Regions from separate parts of the Homo sapiens genome. Here all the other regions are reported to be linked to region 1. The links are microRNA targets in miRTarBase. Many come from high-throughput screens and were not tested one by one. Region 1 holds a microRNA gene; each other region holds the end of a gene's coding sequence.

Evidence for each region. Region 1 holds the annotated microRNA hsa-miR-4715-3p (GUGCCACCUUAACUGCAGCCAAU, at 2,372-2,394, opposite strand). A microRNA usually pairs through its seed, bases 2 to 8, with sites in the 3' UTR of a target mRNA and lowers its output. Matches are read on the target gene's strand: a 7mer-m8 pairs with bases 2 to 8, a 7mer-A1 pairs with bases 2 to 7 and ends in A, and an 8mer does both.
Region 2: the mRNA of GTPBP4 is a reported target of hsa-miR-4715-3p. Seed matches in the 3' UTR shown: 7mer-A1 at 3,231-3,237.
Region 3: miRTarBase lists SLC2A6 as a target of hsa-miR-4715-3p. Seed matches in the 3' UTR shown: 7mer-m8 at 1,472-1,478 and 7mer-m8 at 1,709-1,715.
Region 4: the mRNA of HNRNPA1L2 is a reported target of hsa-miR-4715-3p. Seed matches in the 3' UTR shown: 7mer-m8 at 3,974-3,980.

What each region holds. Positions count from the first base shown.
Region 1 is chr15:25,846,387-25,851,478 of GRCh38, forward strand. MIR4715 (microRNA 4715) reads right to left here and starts at 2,439; the gene lies at 2,361-2,439. All of the region lies in intron 1 of ATP10A (ATPase phospholipid transporting 10A (putative)), which reads right to left. RefSeq lists enhancers at 3,898-3,947, 3,998-4,057 and a silencer at 4,338-4,387.
Region 2 is chr10:1,016,261-1,021,352 of GRCh38, reverse strand. GTPBP4 (GTP binding protein 4) reads right to left here. Exons shown (of 17, transcript NM_012341.3): 17 at 1,421-4,278. The coding sequence ends at 4,126. IDI2 (isopentenyl-diphosphate delta isomerase 2) reads left to right here. Exons shown (of 5, transcript NM_033261.3): 4 at 456-586; 5 at 1,519-2,443. The coding sequence ends at 1,836. Among named protein-coding and RNA genes, the nearest start is that of IDI2-AS1, 3.8 kb to the left of the region's middle.
Region 3 is chr9:133,467,995-133,473,086 of GRCh38, reverse strand. SLC2A6 (solute carrier family 2 member 6) reads left to right here. Exons shown (of 10, transcript NM_017585.4): 10 at 911-1,993. The coding sequence ends at 1,066. CACFD1 (calcium channel flower domain containing 1) reads right to left here. Exons shown (of 5, transcript NM_017586.5): 4 at 5,059-5,092; 5 at 2,239-4,524. The coding sequence ends at 4,434. LOC124902295 (a long non-coding RNA gene) reads left to right here and starts at 4,520. Exons shown (of 2, transcript XR_007061831.1): 1 at 4,520-4,615; 2 at 4,845-5,092. RefSeq lists a silencer at 3,493-3,612 and enhancers at 4,073-4,122, 4,193-4,242, 4,323-4,482.
Region 4 is chr13:52,642,436-52,647,527 of GRCh38, reverse strand. HNRNPA1L2 (heterogeneous nuclear ribonucleoprotein A1 like 2) reads right to left here. Exons shown (of 1, transcript NM_001389320.1): 1 at 3,755-5,092. The coding sequence starts at 5,035. The coding sequence ends at 4,073. Among named protein-coding and RNA genes, the nearest start is that of HNRNPA1L2, 2.6 kb to the right of the region's middle.

The sequences.
Region 1 (5,092 bases):
TGTGTGTGCCAGTGGAGCACAGCTCAGCTGCTCAGTGTGACAGTGACAAGCCCCAAGTTAGCACGTGGTCCACTTCCAGGAAGTGGAGGAGTCAGAGCGCCCCACCCCTCATGCCTCAACCTTCAGAACTGACATGCTCAGCGCAGAAGGGCCACCCCTGGGCATGAGGGTAGACCATGGTGGTGGTCCCACACTGCTGAGCGTTCTTCAAGCCTTCCTAAACATCCCTGGATAAAAGAGACAGCATGAGAATCACCTAGCCTGACATGTGCCGGACACGTGCCTGACACGTGCAATGTTCCTTCAGTGATCTAAAATGACATCACAACATAAAGCTCCTGGAAGATGTTCTGGGTAGTGGTGCCTAAAGTGATGCCCACACACAAAAACATACACCATCACAGGAGTGCAGAAAAACACTACCACCTTTGTTTGTAATTGTGGTTTATTTTATTTTCATTTATATTTTGTATGTTTCAATAGATATAAGATATTTATGCATTACATGCCGGTAATTTATAAATAAATACACACACCCCCACTTTGGGTGCACATGCCCACTTTTTACTGATAGAGGTGTGAGATCAAAAACATCTGAAGACTGTGGCTGTAATGAACCAGCTACACTAAAAAGGATCAATAACATATACATTTTTCTAAAAAGCATCCATAGAGCATCTTTGTCAGCTATCCTTGTTAAATTCTGGGTATTGGCTTTTATCAGGATAACTATCTGGTGTTAGACACTTTCTCAAAAGCCAGAAATATTTAAACAACTTGATCTCATCCACACACATCAAAGATCAAAGGGACACAGGAGGCTCTGACTGAGCAGCACGCGCAGGCACTCAGCCAGTGGCCCTGAGTAACATCTCTTGGGACCCCAGAGCCCCAGGGCCACCTGTTCTGCTCCCAGGCTCTGCCCCTTTTGGACTGAAACCTCCCTCTCTGGGCTCCCATTTCCTCACAGGAACAATGAAGAATTTATAAGCTCTTCACAGAGCTAGCTAAGAATGGTACCATACAAATTCATAAAAATTCAGGCAAGTATATGGTGCTAGAGAAATACGTGAAGTTTTATCACTAAGTATTTGAACAACAATTTTAAAAAGCACCTTTTTTCCACCGTATCATGATCTTTGCGGGTCACGGGGTCTTCATGATCCCACTAAGCAATTTGGAGCTATTCCATATATTCCTAGCTAATTCAAACAGCTACAGCCTTTTTTTTTTTTTTTTTTTTTTTTTTTTTTTTTTTTTTTTTGAGATAGAGTCTCACTCTGTCACCTGGGCTGGAGTGCAGTAGTGCAATCATAATCACGTCTCACAGCACTCTTAACCTTCTGTGCTCAAACAATCTCAGCCCCGCAAGCAGCTGGGACTACAGGCATGCACCACCATGCCCAGCTAATTTTTCGTATTTTTTGTAGGGATGAGGTTTTGCCATGTTTTCCAGGCTGGTATCCAACTCCTGAGCTCAAGCAATCCACCCACCTTGGCCTCCCAAAGTGCTGGGATTACAGATGTGAGCCACCACACCTGGCCTACAGCCATTTTTTAACGGAAATCATCTTAATCAATATTAACACACAAAAAGCTGTAGTTAAGAAGGTGGTTTCTGCCAGGCATGGCAGATAGAGCCTGTATTTCCAGCTACTTGGGAGGCTGAGGCAGGACTGTGTGAGGCCCAGAAGTTCAAGACCAGCCTGGCAACACAGCAAGACCTGGCCTCTAAAAAGTGTTTTTTTTTTTTAATCATCTGTAAAATGAGGATGCAAAACAAACAAAAAAATAAACATGGTATCTGTTTGTTAAACTCTGCAATGAACACATGTATTAGCTTCCCGCTGCGGCAACAAATTATGACAACTTGGTGGCTTGAAGTAACACAAATTTGGGGAGTTTTATTTTATTTATTTCATTTTATAGAGATGGGGTCTTGCCCAGGCTGGAGTGCAGTAGCATAATCACAGCCCAGTGCAACCCCAGTCTCCTGGTCTCAAGTGATCCTCCTGCCTCAGCCTCCTGAGGACCTGGGACTACAGGCTTGTGCCACTGCACCGGCTAAACAAATCTGTCATTTCACAATTCTGGAGGTCAATCTGACATGGATCTTACTGGGTCAAAACGATGGTTTCGGCAGGGCGGCGGGAGAGAATGTTTCCTTGCCTTTTCCAGCTCCTAGAGGCCGCCCACACTCCTTGACTCTAGGTCCTCCACTTTCAAAGCCAACAATGGCAAATTAAGTAGTATTCATATCGGATCTCTCTGCCCGCTTTTCTTCCACTTTTACAGACTTGTGATTACACTGGGCCCACAATTCACTCCAGAATAATCTCCCCATCTTTTTCCAAGAGAAAGGGGAATTAGAATTGGCTGCAGTTAAGGTGGCACCATCAGCTGATTAGCCACCTTAACTGCAGCCAACTTTCATTCCCCTTTCTCATGGGACCTAAGGGAGGGCAGTAGCTCCAGGGATGTTTTACAATTTAAGTTCTATTATTATTCAAGCACTATGGGGCTGACAGGTCAGGAGAGGACTGCCATTGAAAAGAGGATTTGTTACTCAGAGTCCTCCAGAGAAGGAGCTCGCCACACCTACCGCTGTGGGAGGGGGAACATAGGGGAGACCAGCGTCCTAGGAGGCAGAGACCTTGGTGAGAGGAGGGAGAGTCTTTTCTGTGCCTTCCATGGGAAAGAACAGGAGAGGCGGGGTAAGCAGGTTTAGAATCCATTAGTTTGAATAACCTCGGTGGACCCTGGGACAAAGGGCTGTCCCTAGCTGCTTGGTGGCTGGACCTGGGGTGATGAGAGCAGGTGCACAGTGGATGAAACACAGAGGGGGCCGAGGGTGTGGACGTTGGATTGGGTGGCTTGCACACGTAAGGCATGCTGCAGCAATGCTGTTTGCTATCTCTAGGAATTATCTAGCCCTGGGAGGGCCTGTCCCTCCGGAGGCAGCAAGGCTCCAGATGTCAAAGCACCAGACAAGAGAAAATAAAAAGACATCCTTAGTACAGGACTGAATAAGCAGGAACTGAGTTTAGATGTCACTGCATGCAGTAGTTGGGAACAGAGCCAAGAATTACAGACACCACCCTCCCTCCTTCTACGCCTTCTCCAAGTCCCAAGGGCGCATTATGAAGGAATTCCCATTAAGTCTGGCCAGACGCTTTACAGAGGAATTAACACAGGATAGGAAACTGAAAGGAGAAAAAGAGAAAAGACCAGAAACGGAGGAATTTAACCGTGATCAAGGAGGAGCACGGCGCAGCTGCAGGACTGAGCTCAACTCTGGCTCTCACCTCCATGCCAGAGAGAACCTGAGGGTCTCTGTCAGCATGGCCTCCTGGCCCCCAGACATGCTCCCCATGGATGTGAAAGACCACAGGCAGCAGCCAGATTTCTATGGAATGAATCAAACTTTCCATCCTGCTTAAAAGCAATGATTTTCTTTCCAAAAAAAAAAATAAATGTGTACATGGAAAATATTACAATGCAAGTCACAATGAGAGTTAAAAAAGACACACACATCTGATTTGACTAAAGTCTGTCCTGGCAACACGAATAAATAAAATAATGACAATGACACGATGGCACTATGAAATGCCATTACCTAGGTTTCTACCAATTAATTATGAGGGACAAGACATACATAACTAAATATAATTAAATCACGCAGGTCGATAAGATTACCCTTTTTGAGAAAATAATTACATGCCACGTATATTTTGAAACTGTTCAGTGGAGGTGAACAATTGTAGCCCATTATGTGTATGAGACATTCTGGAAAATATCGCTTTGACTTATGTTCAAAAATGGTTGGCTTGTTCAGAGAGAGAGAGTCAGTGGGGAGCACCCAGCAGGAACAGGGGCCTCCCCAGCTCGCTCTCTCCCTGCCTCGTCTTTCCTCTCACAATGCTCTCGGTTTTCTGAGTCAACCATGCTCCTGGGCCAAGGTGCAGCACTGGAGATGACCGAGACAGACAGCGTGGATGCGTTTTGTACGGGGAACAAAACTGATTTCCAACTTGGCAAAAAGCAACAGGAGAGGCCCCGGCTGTGTCTGGTACCGCCTCAGCCGAGCCCTGAAGGGAAAGGCCCAGAAAAAGGGATGTGGCCACACCCTGGGGGCCAGCCCACAGGCGAGGCGAGTCCCCAGGCGCCATTCTACGCGGCCAGTTTTGGAGAACTGGAACTGTGTAGAGCGTCCGGCGGCAGCGGACCCAGCGCTGCTCCATTCTCCCTCCCTCCCTCCCCCCCCAGCCCCGGTGACTCACTCCGCGGCCCGGGCAGGGCGAGACCACGCCCACCACCCCCCAAGACCTGGCCGCGCTCACCTCCCCTCCTGCACAGAGCACCTAAGGGCCCAAAGATCACATCTGAACAAAGGATGGAACTTGGAACTTACATTTACCTTTCCTGCCCCTGACTTTTTAAACTGTTATTAGAAGTATACAAAAACAAAAGGCAGGACATAAAAGTAGTGAAATGCTTTAAACTCTACAAATGACTCAGTTCAAATGTGCGGTGACAGCCTGGGTTTCCTGCCATTTCGTTAACCCCTCGTGTACTGGATTCTTTTAGAAGCAGTGGTTTCCATGCCAGACATCACTTCTTGGGGGAAGCAAAGCAAACAGAGGCTGGGGAGGGGTGAGTGGGGATCTCGGGGACTCCGCCGAACTTGGGGAGGGAGCCTTGTCAAGTCTGGCCTGGCCCACGCTGAGGTCCGTTCGCACCCCAGGACCTTTCTAGAAAAGTCCTAGATTACTATACAACAGGCAGATCTGATGCTGAAACAGAAATAAGGCAGGTCTCTGAGCGGATCTAAAGTTCCCTACTATGCAAGAGCTCACGGGCCTCCAAAGCACCTACTAAGCACCTTTCTGAGAAGACTTGCATGGAGGGCTCTGTTCCAAGGCTCTCCATTCGTGGCCTAGGTTGAGTTTCCTTTTGAAAACCAAGACTTACTTTAGGTTTTTTTTTTTAATTATTATTGTTATAACTGTTGATAAGCAAAAATCAATCAAAGACATCGTTAAATGGGCCAATGAATTTACTTCATTTTATGTTTTCAAAACAAACCTTCCCC
Region 2 (5,092 bases), not on the chromosome of region 1:
TGAAACCATGCTCACTGATCACCACCCTCAAAGTGCAGCCCAGCTTCCTCAGCCCAGCTGGTGCAGCCACCCAGCCCACAGCCCCACCACCTCCTCCCGCCACCCCATGGCATCTCAGGTCCTCTGTGGGTACAAAACTGAGTAGGAACCAGTCCCTCTCCTAAGACATACTGGGATAGTGCCACGGGACATGTGTGTGCACATCTGCAGGAAGGGCCGCAGGAGCGGTCAGGGCCAGCCCCGCCAGGTGGTCATGTGGAAGACCCTCACCAAGCCCACAGCCGTGGAGGCTGGAGGCGAGTGCTGCTCTGAGAGCCCATGACAAACCCACTCCCCCCGCCAGGCTGTCTTCTGCTGATGACGGATGATGGTTTTACATGAAGCATCTGCATTTGTATTTAATATATTCACTTTTCAGGAATAAAGAGGGATGTTCCCACATGCATTTTTTCCAGGGTATTTTACCGACTCCTGTAGTAGCCACCCATTATACAACCCAGCAGAACTGGAAGAAAAGGATGCCATCGGAGTGAGGAGGGCAGCCCAGAGGCGTCTGCAAGCAGAGCTGGGAATTCCTGGGGAGCAGGTACACACAGCATCCAGTCTCAGCTGTGTCCACGGGAGTCCAGGTTGGCAGCGGGCAGACGGTGAACAAAGTCCAGGCTGGATCTACACCATTGACCTCATGAAGCACCATGAGGATGAAGGATGGGGCTGTGGATGGGGCTGTGAATGAGCTGTGAATGGGGCTGTGAATGGGGCTGTGAATGTAGCTGTGGATGGGGCAGTGTGAGTCCCTATGTGTCCCAGGCAGGGTTGAGACTGTGCAGGAATCTGTCGACCACACACCGAAGAGGAAATTCAAGCCGGGCGTGGTGGCTCACGCCTGTAATCCCATCACTTTGGGAGGCCGAGGCGGGCGGATCACAAGGTCAAGAAATCAAGACCATCCTGGCCAACATGGTGAAACCCCGTCTCTATTAAAAGTACAAAAATTAGCTGGGCGTAGTGGCACACGCCTGTAATCCCAGCTACTTGGGAGTCAGAGGTTGCAGTGAGCCGGGATTGTGCCACTGCACTCCAGCCTGGCGACAGAGCGAGACTCCATCTCAAAAAAAAAAAAAAGAAAGAAATTCAAGTGTAGAAAGAATGTCCAGGATCCTGTGAGCATGTGTTACCTTCATCCACTCAAGAACACGTTTAAGAGAGGATGGATGTTCTCCTGACAACGCTAGCCGGTTTCTACGGGGTTTTCTGTTGAGGATGTGTGTGTGACACGGTTAGTTCTTTAAATGAAGACAGACAGGTTTACTGGAACCAAGAAACCAAAGCCGGTTTATCATTCAGACTTGAGTCCACAAAAATTTACTTAGCTAAAATCGAGGTTTTGGAAATTATCAATTACCAAAGAAAGTGTTCATTTTCTGAGGAAAACAAATGTGTTTATTTTCTCTATTTTTCTGTAAATTCTGTGTTTTACATTAGCGTTGTTAACACTGCACCAATTTCTGTCAATAGATTTCTCCAGAGGACATTGTGTTCATGACAATCTATCACCACAAGGCAAAATCAGACAGAATTTGGGGAGAGCATGAAATTTGTTACCTTCTGCTTGTGAGGAAAAACGTCACTCTGAACCCGGATCCCAGTGAAACGAAAAGCATCCTCTACCTGTCCCAGGAGGAGCTGTGGGAGCTGCTGGAGAGGGAGGCGAGGGGTGAAGTCAAAGTCACCCCCTGGCTAAGAACCATTGCCGAGAGGTTTCTGTACCGGTGGTGGCCTCACCTGGATGACGTGACCCCGTTTGTGGAGCTTCACAAAATACACAGAGTGTGAGAGGCAGGGAGGTCGAGTCAGCCATGTGTAATGCCCTCAGTGCAGGCAGACGCACCATTGAGGCAATGATACACCCTCTCCAAAAAACAGGGCAAAAGGGGCACTTGATTGCCCATCATGTATAAATCACTATTTCAACCTTTTCATCAACTTTGTCATATCTTCATTTTCCCTTTTCCTTATTTCCATATTTCTCATCTGCCTGGTTGCAGGGAGGAAATTTAACATTTCCTTTGTCCCAATTTCCATTTTATAAGCACTTGTTTGATTAACAGCAGCTGATCCTGAAAGTCTTGGGGAGATCTTGAGAGTCCTGAAGCAGGCGGACTAGCCTGGCTGGACCATGAGGCTGTCTCCCCACAGCTTTATCCAAGCCTCCAAGGTCAGGATGGGATCTCTGTATCATGTTTTTCTTTTTAAATCACTTATTTCAGAGTGCAACACAAGGCTGCATTTTTAAAAAAAAGACACATTCAATCTTGCATCCTAATACAAGCAGTACGGAAGATGCGTATGGTCTCAGCCAAGTGACTCGACGTTTATCCACTTCTGTTCATTTGATCGTTTCAGTAATATGCTTACAAATAAAGACATACTTGCTTTAAAACATACTGTTGTTGTTTAACACAAAGTAAACTATATGTTAAGTTTTGGTGTTTAATACGGAGAAAGAATTTCAAAAACCAGACCTGGTATTTTTTTTTTTTTTTTGAGATGGAGTCTCGCTGTCGACCAGGCTGGAGTGCAGTGGTGCGATCTTGGCTCACTGCAAGCTCCGCCTCCCGGGTTCAAGCCATTCTCCTGCCTCAGCCTCCCAAGTAGTTGGGACTACAGGCGCCCGCCACCACACCCAGCTAATTTTTTGTATTTTTAGTAGAGACGGGGTTTCACCGTGTTAGCCAGGATGGTCTCGATCTCCTGACCTCGTGATCCGCCTGCCTCGGCCTCCCAAAGTGCTGGGATTACAGGCATGAGCTGCCGCGCCCGGCCATACTGTTGTTGTTTAACACAAAGTAAACTATATGTTAAGTTTTGGTGTTTAATACGGAGAAAGAATTTCAAAAACCAGACCTGGTATTTTTTTTTTTTTTTTCACACGGAGTCTCTCTCTGTCACCCAGGCTGGAGTGCAGTGGCACGATCTCGGCTCACTGCAACCTCCGCCTCTGGGCTCAAGCAATTCTCCTGCCTTAGCCTCCCGAGCAGCTAGGATTACAGATGCCCACCACCACGCATGGCTAATTTTTGTATTTTTAGTAGAGATGGGGTTTCACCATGTTGGCCAGGCTGGTCTCGAACTCCTGACCTCCTGATCTGCCCACCTCGGCCTCCCAAAGTGCTGGAACTACAGGCTTGAGCCCCTGCGCCCAGCCCAGCCCTGGTAAATTTTTAAAATTGCCACATGTAATCCAGAAGTGTGATTAACTAAAGTCCTTTCCTCAGCTATAATGTTGATTGTGTGACTTGATAACTTATCCGTGGTGGCTCTTGGACCCCTGTGTGTCTTTGGAGCTCCAGGAGCACACGGACCCCTGGGCAGGTCCCTCCGACCCCACAGCTCTTCACCCCAACGCTCCCCAGCAGGTGCTTTTGAGGTGGCATTGGCGGTGTTTTTGTGTTTTACTGAACATGTAACTTCAGGGACGGGCCACAGAAATAGGAGAATGCCCATATTTAATTGCCTAATGCCTCCAGCAACATTTTACTCCCCCAAAAGTATTTTTGCTTTAAAACAAAATAGAAATGTCATGTTGTTTGCCTTTTTATTTGGCCAAATCCATAGCGACTATAACTAAACCAAAACATGAGCTAAGTAAATGAAAACTACTTTCTTCTGGAGGTTTATTTTGGATAAAATAGTTGAAGACAGACTACAATGAGACATTGTAAAATAAGACTAGAAAATAATTTAAGAGCGTATTTTAAGCACGGGATTCCGACACACTCATAAACGTGTTTGCTCCCAGCTCTTACAAAAGAAAATAAGGTTTTTCTCCATCAAAAACAACCTAGTTAAACCAGTAAATCTTCCCAGTTCTGAAAATCTGAAGCAACTGATACTCCATTAAATGTGGAAACACTGTCTACTCAAAATATTTGTAATATTATGCAGTGACAAAAATTTCCCACACCTATATAGGGTTAACCATAGTTTTCAGCAAAGCAACAAGTGCTTTACTTATTTTGTCTTTTTCAGTTTATACAGAGCTCCAATTTCATGAAACCATACTGTGCCAAACCAGGAAATAAACAGCAACACTCTAGCGAAGCCACGCCAACCAAACGGATACTATCTCCTGTCCTTTTTACCAGCTTTCCTCTTCCCAGACAGCAAGTGCTTGGGCTTCATATCAAACACGTGTCTATCCGCCTCCCCTTTCTTCCCCAACCGATTCATCTTCTTCTGAGCATTCTTCATCATAGTCTTGGCTTTCTTCACCATCTAAAAGGAGGAGAAAAAAATAAAGTATGTTCATTACTTAAAACCAATTTTCCATTCTGAATTTCAACTACTGGGTAACAATCTGTTTAATGGCTCAGGTCTGCTCAGCGAAGAGACCCTGTTACATCTCTTTTCTCTTAAGCCCAGCACAGTTATCCCTGTTACATCTCTTTTCTCTTAAGCCCAGCACAGTTACCCCTGTTACATCTCTTTTCTCTTAAGCCCAGCACAGTTACCCCTGTTACATCTCTTTTCTCTTAAGCCCAGCACAGTTATCCCTGTTACATCTCTTTTCTCTTAAGCCCAGCACAGTTATCTGCAGGAACTCAATGAGTATTTTTGTATAAAGACTGGATGAAAATCATACCCAGGACAAGCTTTATACCCAGGACTAGATACACTTTAGACCTAGAAGGTTAGCACACATCTGTTTTAACTCCCTCTTACACAAGCTAAGGACTCAGGCCCATGAACCTGTTTTCCTCAGGTCTGACTGACAAGTGGCAATGCCAATATTAACAGCCAGGTTTCAAGATGGCAATGGCACAGAGGAGTGAAGCTCAGGCTTCCATGAAGGAGACTGCAGTTTATACACAGACTCTCCTGCATCTCCATTACCACAACGCTGAAACTAAAAGTTGTTGTGTTTAATAAAAGGACGTTTCAGCAAGACAGACTGTGTCCATCTTAAGTGTCTTTGCCAAAAGACGCTACAAATAAACTAAATGTGACTCAAGCTCTCCACCTGGGGGGAACAATCCTGCAACCTAAGGATGAGCAGGATCACCCGCCAATCAACCCAGGAGTTCCCTCT
Region 3 (5,092 bases), not on the chromosome of region 1:
GCCCCAGGCCCCTAGGCCCTCTCTGACTGGCCAGGACCCTTCTCAGTGCCAGGGGCTGTGCCAAGGCCTGCTGTCAGGACCCTAACTCTCAGTGACCCTAGGAGATGAGCACACACCCCCTGAACTCAGAGACCCCAGAGTGGTCACGTGATAGCCTAGCAAACGCTCTTCATTATAAGAAACAGGAACGGGCGTAGGCAACTGTTCTGGGAAGTCAGGTTACCTCCTGGGCCAGGGCAGGACATGGCCCAGGACCCTGCCAGGGGCCCCGGAAGCCACCTCCCCACCGTGCCTCATCTCCCGCCCTCCTGGGCGCTGGGTCTCAGCAGCAGCCACACTCCCCCCTCAACCCCACCCACTCCCCCTGCCTCCTGGTTCAAAACTACGGGCCCTGTGACCAGCCAGAATCTGTGAGGCCCAGAGTAAGTTCCCATGAGGGAGAAGCTGGCTAGGGCAGCCTAGGCCAGCGCCTAAGCTGTCCCTGCAGTGGTCAGGGCAGGGGGGTTGGGGGAGGGCAGGCAACCCAGAGTGAGTCCATCAGCCTAGAGGGTCCAAGAAGAACCTGCGTGCCCACCAGGCTGCAGGGCGGGCCTCCTGCAGGCCGCGGCATGGAACAGCTGGGATGCCAGCGCTGGGTAGGGGGTGTGGAGGGGGTACCTGAGCTGACGCCAGAGGGCCCAGCCCCTGAGGAAGGCCGAGGGGCAGACGGGATGCAGACTTCAAGGGCTACTTCGGATTTGTCCTGGGGACAGTGGGGGAGCCCTGGTGTGGGGGGGCGGTCTCTGAACACAGGAAGGACCAGATGAAGGCCCCACAGGGCTGGTCACTACCAGCAGCGCCCACGAGCTCCTCTGGGGCAGGAGGACCCTGGAGCTTCTCCCTGTGACCCGGCCCCGCTCTTCACCCGCAGAGCACCTTCGGCCTCCAGGTGCCTTTCTTCTTCTTCGCGGCCATCTGCTTGGTGAGCCTGGTGTTCACAGGCTGCTGTGTGCCCGAGACCAAGGGACGGTCCCTGGAGCAGATCGAGTCCTTCTTCCGCACGGGGAGAAGGTCCTTCTTGCGCTAGGTCAAGGTCCCCGCCTGGAGGGGGCCAAACCCCCAGTGGCTGGGCCTCTGTGTTGGCTACAAACCTGCACCCTGGGACCAAGAGGCAGCAGTCATCCCTGCCACCAGCCAGAGCACAGGAAGAGCAGTGTGATGGGGCCTCAGCAGCGGGTGCCCCTGGCTCGGGACAGGTAGCACTGCTGTCCAGCCACAGCCCCAGCCCAGGCAGCCCACAGTGCTGCACGTAGCCATGGGCCGCAGGAGTGCATACAACCCTGCATCCAGGGACACGGCCCTGCTGGGTGACCTCAGGCCTAGTCCCTTTCCCTTGCGTGAAGGACACGCCCCACAGAAGGCTACGGGGAGGACTGAGAGGACAGGGCTGGAGGCAGCCAAGTAACGTAGTCATATCATCGCGCTCTGATCTGGTGGCATCTGGCTGTGCAAGGAAGACCCGGCTTTGCCCTCACAAGTCTTATGGGCACCACAGGGAACATCCTGGACTTAAAAAGCCAGGGCAGGCCGGGCACAGTGGCTCACGCCTGTAATCCCAGCACTTTGGGAGGCCAAAGCAGGTGGATTACCCAAGGCCAGGAGTTCAAGACCAGCCTGGCCAACATGGTGAAACCCCGTCTCTACTAAAAAATACAAAAAAGCTGGGTGTGGTGGCACACACCCGTAGTTCCAGCTACTTGGGAGGCTGAGGCAGCATTGCTTGAACCCGGGAGGTGGAGGCTGCAATGAGCTGAGATCATGCCATTGCACTCCAGCCTGGGCAACGAGAGTGAAACTCCGTCCCCACCCCCTGCCAAAAAAAAAAAAAAAAAAGCCAGGGCAAAGGACCTGGCGTGGCCACTTCCTCCTGCCCCAGCCCAACCTCTGGGAACAGGCAGCTCCTATCTGCAAACTGTGTTCACCCTTTTGTAAAAATAAAGGAACTGGACCTGTAGTCCTAGCGAGGAAAGAGTGGGGTCTACTCCAGGAGCCCCCACAGCAGCCAGGCTAGACCCGAACCAGCCAAGGTTGCCAGGGCCACTGACTGCTGATCCATAGCAAAAGCAGGGCAGGGAAAAGGCTGCAGTGAGGGGAAGCCCACTGCGAGGCCCACCCTTAACAGGCTCTTTCTAGCTGTGTGACCTTGGGCAGGTCACTTTCCTTGTCTGGGATGCTGGGGGCAGCCTCGGGACAGGACCTGTAGTTATTTCCTGGGCCAGCGGCTCCTGCCTGGCTTCCACACTCACACACAGGCACCAAGGCAGAAGGGAGCAGAGGGCAGGCACGCGAGCCACGGCCACGCTTTATTGCTTAAGACGCACACAGAACACAGAGGAACAAACAAGGAGGAAAGGGCGCCACACACAGCCCAGACCAGGCAGGAGCGGCCCAGCCGCCGGAAGAGACGTTCCTTGCAAGGCAGGGCCCCTGCTGGACAGCACGCCCCCTGGGCGACAGGGTCAGGGACCCCAGGACTGCACAGCTGCAGACTTGCTGGGAACCTGGGACAGGTGACACGCCCACTCTCGCCTGTGGCCCAGGGCCTTCCACCTCTGCATCCAGCCATGCACCCACCATTTCCCCACAGGGTACAGGGGCAGCCTTCCTTGATCCACAGCCAACCCTTCTCCTGCTGTCTCTGGCTGTCAGTGAGACCCCTCTGGAAAGGGCAGAAGCAGGCAAGCCAGGCAGAAGGGGGCCCGGGGTCCCACTACCTGGGTAGGAATGAGCAGAGGGCGGGCAGAGCCCTTGCTCCTTGTGGGAGGTAGACAGGTCTCACTGCATACATGGGACAGATGTGTGCACCCACACACATATACATACACACACACACACACACACACACACACACACACACAGCCCTTTGAACCCAGCACTGGCCTGAGGAAGGTGGCCCCGGAGGAACCCTGAAGGCACATGTCCACCAGGCTATAATGCCCCTGCCACCCTGGGGCTCAGCTGGCCAGACTCCCAGGGGTGGGATGCTGCTGACCCAGGAGCCCACCAAGTCCCCAGGGCAGTACTGGGCAGGGCCCAGAAAACCCCACGCCCAGCCCACCAGCCTGCCACTCCTGGCCTCAGATGCCACTCCCGGCCTCAGATGCCACTCCCAGCCTCAGACGCAGATGGGCCCGAGAGGTGTTCCTGGGAAACAGTTCACTTAGCAAGACCCAGTACCTGCGCTCCAGAAGCTCAGCGCAGGCCCAGCCTGGGGTTGGCCCCAGATGGAATATCTTCCACACCCGCCCGCTTCTGCCAAACCCCACCTGGGCTAAGCCAGGCCCGACCAGGCACCTGCCCGATGGCTGAGAGCCAGCCTCACGGTCAGAGAGGCCAGCGGGCTGAGGCCACAGGGCAGAGGGAATATGGGGGTGCACATCCTGGGCACCAGCTCTCTGCATCCTCCCTGGGTAGGCCTGGCTCCGGACAGCCTGGCACCCAGGGCAGTGGGGACAGCTCTGTGTGGGGAGGTGACTGTGGCCTCTGCCCAGTTCTTAAAAGGCAGAAGCTCCCTGAGGGCAGGGCTTGGGCAGGCCAGCAGGAGCACCTGAGTGGGGCTGAGGTCAGACCCACTAACCCACTAATGGGGCTGGGCTGTGGCTGATGTTGACGGGGCCACACCAGGGAGAGGGTGGGCACCCTCGGTGCCAGGGAGAGCCTGCTCTCCCCACTTCCTTAGCACCAAGGCCAGCAGGGGCGGGGGGTGATGGGCAGAACCTAGGGGCCCCAGCAGGCCCAGGGAGGAGGGGCAGCCGAGGGGCCTTGAGGTGGCCTGTCCAAGGTTCCCAGGGCCAGCAGGGAGCATCCCCCACCCAGCTGTCCAGTCACTGCCAAGGCTGCAGTTCCAGGTACCGGGGTGCACCTTAGGAGCCCTGTGGGCTTCTTCAGAAGGCAGGGTGACAGTGGGCGCTGCACCCTAGGCAGCAGTGGGAGGTTGCTGGCAGCGGCAGGCTGTCCCAGGCCCTGGGGCTCCACCTGCTAAGAGAGCTGGGGGAGGTCCCTCTGCTCAGTGCCCAGGTGGCAGGGTCCCACTTGCCCCTCCCCTCAAGCCAGGACCAGCATCTCCAGGGGAAGCTGCTCCCAGGTCACAGCAGGTCACAGGCAGCCCTGTCTGTGGTGTGAGATCTGCAGACCCACCCAGCAGAGGAGTAGGGCTGGGTAGTGTCCACACAGCTGCTGCAGGCTCTGCCTCAAGTCCAGCAGCCCAGACCCTCACACCAGCAGCCAGTGGCTCCTGGCTTAAGCCAGTCTGGAGAAAGGAGCAGAGGACTCCAGGTGTAGGGACACGTGCAAAGGCCCCTCTCCAGGCTGTGCCTCAGCGTGGACAGTCCAGGCCTCACTTGGACCCACACAGAGCCAGAAGAGGGGACAGGGAGGGAGGGGCGCCCAGCCCTTCACAGCTCCCCCTCCAGGGTCTCCGCGAGCTTCTCCTCATCCGCCTGCTGCCTCTGCTGCTGGATCCTGGCATAGGAGATCGCATCGCCCCTGGGGAGAGAGAGAGGCAGCGTCACGTGGAGCACCAGCCCCATGCCCACAGCCCTCCTGACCACTGCCCGGTTCCTGCCCTGTGACCCAGGTGTGACCTGCAGGCATTCTGATTTCCCCAGAGACAACTGCTGGGGTGGCAAAGGCCTGTCTTGTCCCCTCTGAGAATGGCCCAGGCTCCCTGGGATGCTGGGCTGCGAAGGAACCAGCCTCAGTCTGGGCTCTGCAGGAGAGAGGGTGGCAACTGAGTACAATGCCCGGTGCAGACCTGGGAGGGGAAGGGGCTCCCACCAGCCATGTTTTTGCTATCCTTGCTGCAGGCCGTGACGGGGCAAGACTGGGCCACGCAGAAGTGTTGTAAGTCCTCTGTCTTCACCCACTCGAGCTGAGCCCTGGAGGCACCAATGAGTTACTGGGACCTCTGCCTCGGTCTCCACTAGCTAAAAGGGGCCACTCTCAGATCCTCCTCACTGAAGGACTTCGGGGGGCGGAGGGAGGAAGGCCCTGCCCAGGGGCTGGGCCTGGCAGACGCACTTTTTGCCCAGAGCAGAGAGTCCGTACAGCACCC
Region 4 (5,092 bases), not on the chromosome of region 1:
AGAATGGCGTGAACCCGGGAGGAGGAGCTTGCAGTGAGCCGAGACTGCACCAATGCACTCCAGCCTGGGCGACAGAGCAAGACTCCGTCTCAAAAAAAAAAAAAAAAAAAAAAAAAAAAAAAAAAAAAAAAAAAATCCCAGAGCTTTTCCCTTTTAGAAGTTGACAAACTGATTCTAAAATTCAAATGGGGGAAAAATTCAAATGAAAATGCAAAGGACTTACAATAGCCAAATCAGCTTTGAAAAATAACAAAGTTGGAGAGATAACATTACTTCATCTCAAGACCTGTCAACCTTGTGGTATTGGCACAAAAATAGACAGATTAATGGAACAGAGAATCCATAAATAGACCCATACCATATGTAGACAGCTGATTTTTAACAAAGGTCCAAAGGTAATTCAGTGGAGAAAAAACAGTTGAAAAGGAGAGACTTTAAAACAGACTGGATATACATGTGCCAAAAAGTGAGTTTCAGTGTGTATCTTTGCACCATGTACAACAATTCACTCAAAATGGATTATGGGGCTACAACTCCTATAAAACTTCTAGAGGAAAGAAAATCTTTGTGATCTTGGGTTAGACAAAGATTTCTTAGCACACCAAAAGCATGATCCATAAAAGAAGAAATTTGTAAATTAGACTTCACCAAAATTTAAAAGATTCTACACTATGAAAATATTTGCAATCACATCTCTGATGAAGAGCTTGCATCCAGAATATATGAAGATGTCTCAAAACTCAGAAACTGTAAGTCAATAGGGAAATAGAAATTAAAACCACAACCATATGCCACTACACACCCATTTAAACGGCTAAAAGGAGAAAGACTGACCATGTTGGCAAGGATGTAGAGCAACTGGAAGACTCATACACCACTGGTAGGAATGTAAAAAGGCACAACCATAAAATGACTTAGACCACTGCTACACAATTAGCACCCAAGAGATATGAAATAACATGTTCATGCAATGTTTGTACAAAATGTCTGTGTCTGTTTATAGCAGTTTTAATGGTTAACAGTTGAAAACTGGAAACAACCCAAATGTACATCAATAGGTGAATGGATAAACAGTAGTACAGCTGGCCAGGTGCAGTGACTCATGACTGTAATCCCACACTTTGGGAGGCGGAGGCGGGTGGATCACCTGAGATCAGGAGTTTGAGACTAGCCTGGCCAACCCTGTCTCGTCTAAAAATACAAAAAAATGTGGCACGCACCTATATTCCCAGCTACTCAGGAGGCTGAGGCAGGAGAACCATTTGAATGCAGGAGGTGGAGGTTGCAGTGAGCCAGGATCACACCACTGCACTCCAGCCTGAGCGACAGAGCGAGACTCCATCTCAAAACAAACAAAAAACAACAGCAGTATAGCCAGTATAGCCATACAATGGAATACTGCTCAGCAATAAAAGGAATGAAGTATTGCTACACACTATAACATGGATGAATCTCAAAATTATGCTAAGTGAAAAAAATCAGACAAAAATAGTACATTTTGTATGATTCCATTTATATAAAATCCTGAAAAATTTTAAAACTCATCTGTATGACAATCAGTGGTTTACTGGGTGGGGGTGGGGGCTGGAGAGCAGGGTGGAATTTCAAGAATAAAAGGGGCATGAGGAAACATTGGGGTAATAGGTATGTTCACTATCTTGATTATGGTGATGATTTTACGAGTGTATACATATGTAACACTTCAAACTGTACACTTTAAATAATGTGCATGGTTTGCTTTATGTCAACTATAGCCCTATAAAGCTATTTTATTTTATTTTATTTTTTGAGATGGAGTCTTGCTCTGTTGCCCAGGCTGGAGTACAATGGCGTGATCTCGGCTCACTGTAAGCTCTGCCTCCCGGGTTCACACCATTCTCCTGCCTCAGCCTCCTGAGTAGCTGGGACTATAGGCACCCGCCACCACACCCAGCTAATTTTTTGTATTTTTAGTAGAGATGGGGTTTCACCTTGTTAACCAGGATGGTCTCGATCTCCTGACCTCATGATCCGCCCGCCTTGGCCTCCCAAAGTGCTGGGATTACAGACGTGAGCCACCGCGCCCGGCCTAAAGCTATTTTTTTAAAACACATTTAGAGCTATAGATAAGAATTGATAGTCATCAGCATATGGATGGTGGTAAGCAACATAAGAACATGAGCACAAGGAGGCCAGGCGCAGTAGCTCACACTTGTAATCCCATCACTTTGGGATGCCAAAGCAGGAGCATCCCTTGAGCCCAGGAGCTCGAGACCAGCCTGGGCAATATGGTAAAACACTTTCTCTACAAAATACATTAGCCAGATGTGGTGGTGCATGCCTGTAGTCCACTGAGTGTACTGAGGCTGAGGTGGGAGGATTGCTTGAGCCCAGGTCGAGGTTCAGTGAGCTGTTATCATGCCACTGCACTCCAACCTGGGCAACAGAGCGAGACCCTGTCTCAAAAAAGAAAGAAAAAAAAGGCAAGGAGAATATGTAGTTTTCTCACTTAATAAATATTGAATCCCTCCTATGTATAGATATGCGAGGGACTGGGGATACTAAAATGACTGCAATCTTGGTGCTTAATAATCTAGTGTTGGAATCACGCATATCAACAGGCAGTTATTATAGTGTCATATATGTCTAAATGGGAGAGATTAAAGGGGTTCTGTGAAAGCAGTCAGAAGATTTTGAAAGCTCAGAGTAAGTAATGTCTCAGCCAAAGCCTGAAGAACATATAGGAGGTAACCAGCATGAGATAACCTGTGCTGAGCAGAGTGGGCTTGAAATCAGATCTAGCGGAGTGATTTGGAAAGTACAGCTTCAGGGGTGTTTATTTGCAAAAGCCCCTTCAAACCCTATCTAATTTGTTAATATAATTTTGTACGTATTTTTCCTAAATAAATCCCCTCCCCACTCCCACAACCCCAACAAATTGTGTAAATTTTGGCCCCACAAAACCTGGATTTGTCCTTAAGTAGGTCTTTCTTTTGGGTTACTTAGAATTCAGCTCCTTCTTATGTCTGGGGAATTCCTTGAGTCTTCCCACTGAGCCAGTCTCCCTCTATAAAAGCTGAAAATGCCAAACAACTTAAGCTGAACTTGCACATACTTTAAAATTGGTAACTGGTTAGCAACAACAAATCAAGGAAGGACCTTAGTGTATCCTCTCCAGATGCAGTAGCACATGTGTCAAGATCAAATTCCCAAAGCAGCAGATAGTGTTACAAAGCAGTGTGTCAGTGCTTGGCAACAGTGGCTACAATCTCCTCACCCGACCAGTTATGCAGTATGGTTCCAGGATTTATTCCCAGCCGTGTGGCTCAGACTGATGCTGATTCTCTAGTCCTTTTGGCCATTCTGCAAGCAGCACAATATTCTTCTAATACAATTTATCTTATGCTGAAAACCAGAATCCATCTCTGTTGCTTACGACTAAGAATCCAAACTGATAGACAATTTGGTATTTGGAAGTGGAGTGCTACAAAACAGACCTAGAATGGTGTGTAATTGGCCGGGTGGAAAAGGCAGGATGGAGGGCATTGAGACACAACTGTTTCGGGCTGGGAAACTAGTGACTCTGAGACAGGACACCAAGCTCACACCATCAAGAAATGTACTCTAAAGCTGAGCAGCCTTAGAAAGAGTCTTCTTCCCAGTGCTCATATTAGATGTGGCTGTTGAGGACAAAACACCAGAGAGCCACAGCCACCAGATGAAAAAGCAGCCTACGGATTCCACCAAAGATCTTTTTTTTTTTTAGAGACATTTATTCAGCGTCACAATCAGACTATTACATTTAGCAATCAACAGCATGGGTGCAAAAAAAAAAATCTACATTAAAACACTTTGTTGGAATGCTTTACACTTTCCACAGAACAGAAACTAAAATAACCTGTTATACAATTAGTCACAAATACAGTCCTCGAGTTTTTTGCCCATACACATGAGTATTTGTCTAAAACATGTCTTCTTTGTAGCAGCTAGGCCCTGCCACCACTGTGCTTGGCTGAGTTCACAAATCTGTTGTAACCTGTAGCTTCCCTGTCACTTCTCTGGCTCTCCTCTCCTGCTAAGCTTTGTTTCCTAATTAAAATCTTCTGCCACTGCCATAGCTACTGCTGCTGCTGGAAACGCCATAGCCACCTTGGTTTTGTGGTTTTGCAAAGTATTGGCCTCCACCGCCATAGGGGCCAGAGCTTCTGCCTCCAAAATTTCCTCCCTTCATGGGTCCAAAATTTGAAGACTGATTGTTGTAATTGCCAAAATCATTGTAGCTTCCACCACCTCCAAAATTGCTTCCATCATTACCAAATCCATTATAGCCATCCCCACTGCCACCATATCCACCACCACCACAGCTGCCACCAAAGCCACCACGACCACTGAAGTTTCCTCCACGACCAAAGTTGTCATTCCCACCGAAACCATCTCCACGACCACCACCAAAGTTTCCAGAACCCCTTCGACCTCTTTGGCTGGATGAAGCACTAGCCATCTCTTGCTTTGGCAGGGCTTTTCTAACTTCACAGTTGTGGCCCTTCACAGTATGGTATTTCTGAATGACAATCTTATCCACGGAGTCATGGTCGTCAAAGGTTACAAAGGCAAAGCCCCTTTTCTTGCCACTGCCTCGGTCAGTCATGATTTCAATTACTTCAATTTTTCCATACTGTTCAAAATAATCTCTTAGGTGATGTTCTTCAGTGTCTTCTTTAATGCCACCAACAAATATCTTTTTCACAGTTAAGTGGGCACCTGGTCTTTGAGAATCTTCTCTGGAGACAGCTCTCTTTGGTTCCACAACTCTTCCATCCACCTTGTGTGGCGTTGTATTCATAGCTGCATCCACCTCCTCCACAGTGGCATATGTGACAAACCCAAAGCCCCTGGAGCGCTTGGTGTTTGGATCTCTCATTACCACACAGTCTGTGAGCGTTCCCCATTGCTCAAAATGGCTCCTCAGGCTCTCATCAGTTGTTTCAAAGCTCAACCCTCCAATGAAGAGCTTCCTCAGCTGTTCGGGCTCTTTTGGAGACGCTGACTTAGACATGACGGCAAGGTGAAGAGAGACTTTAACGATGCTTCTTCAGCGGCGTCCACGGGCAGA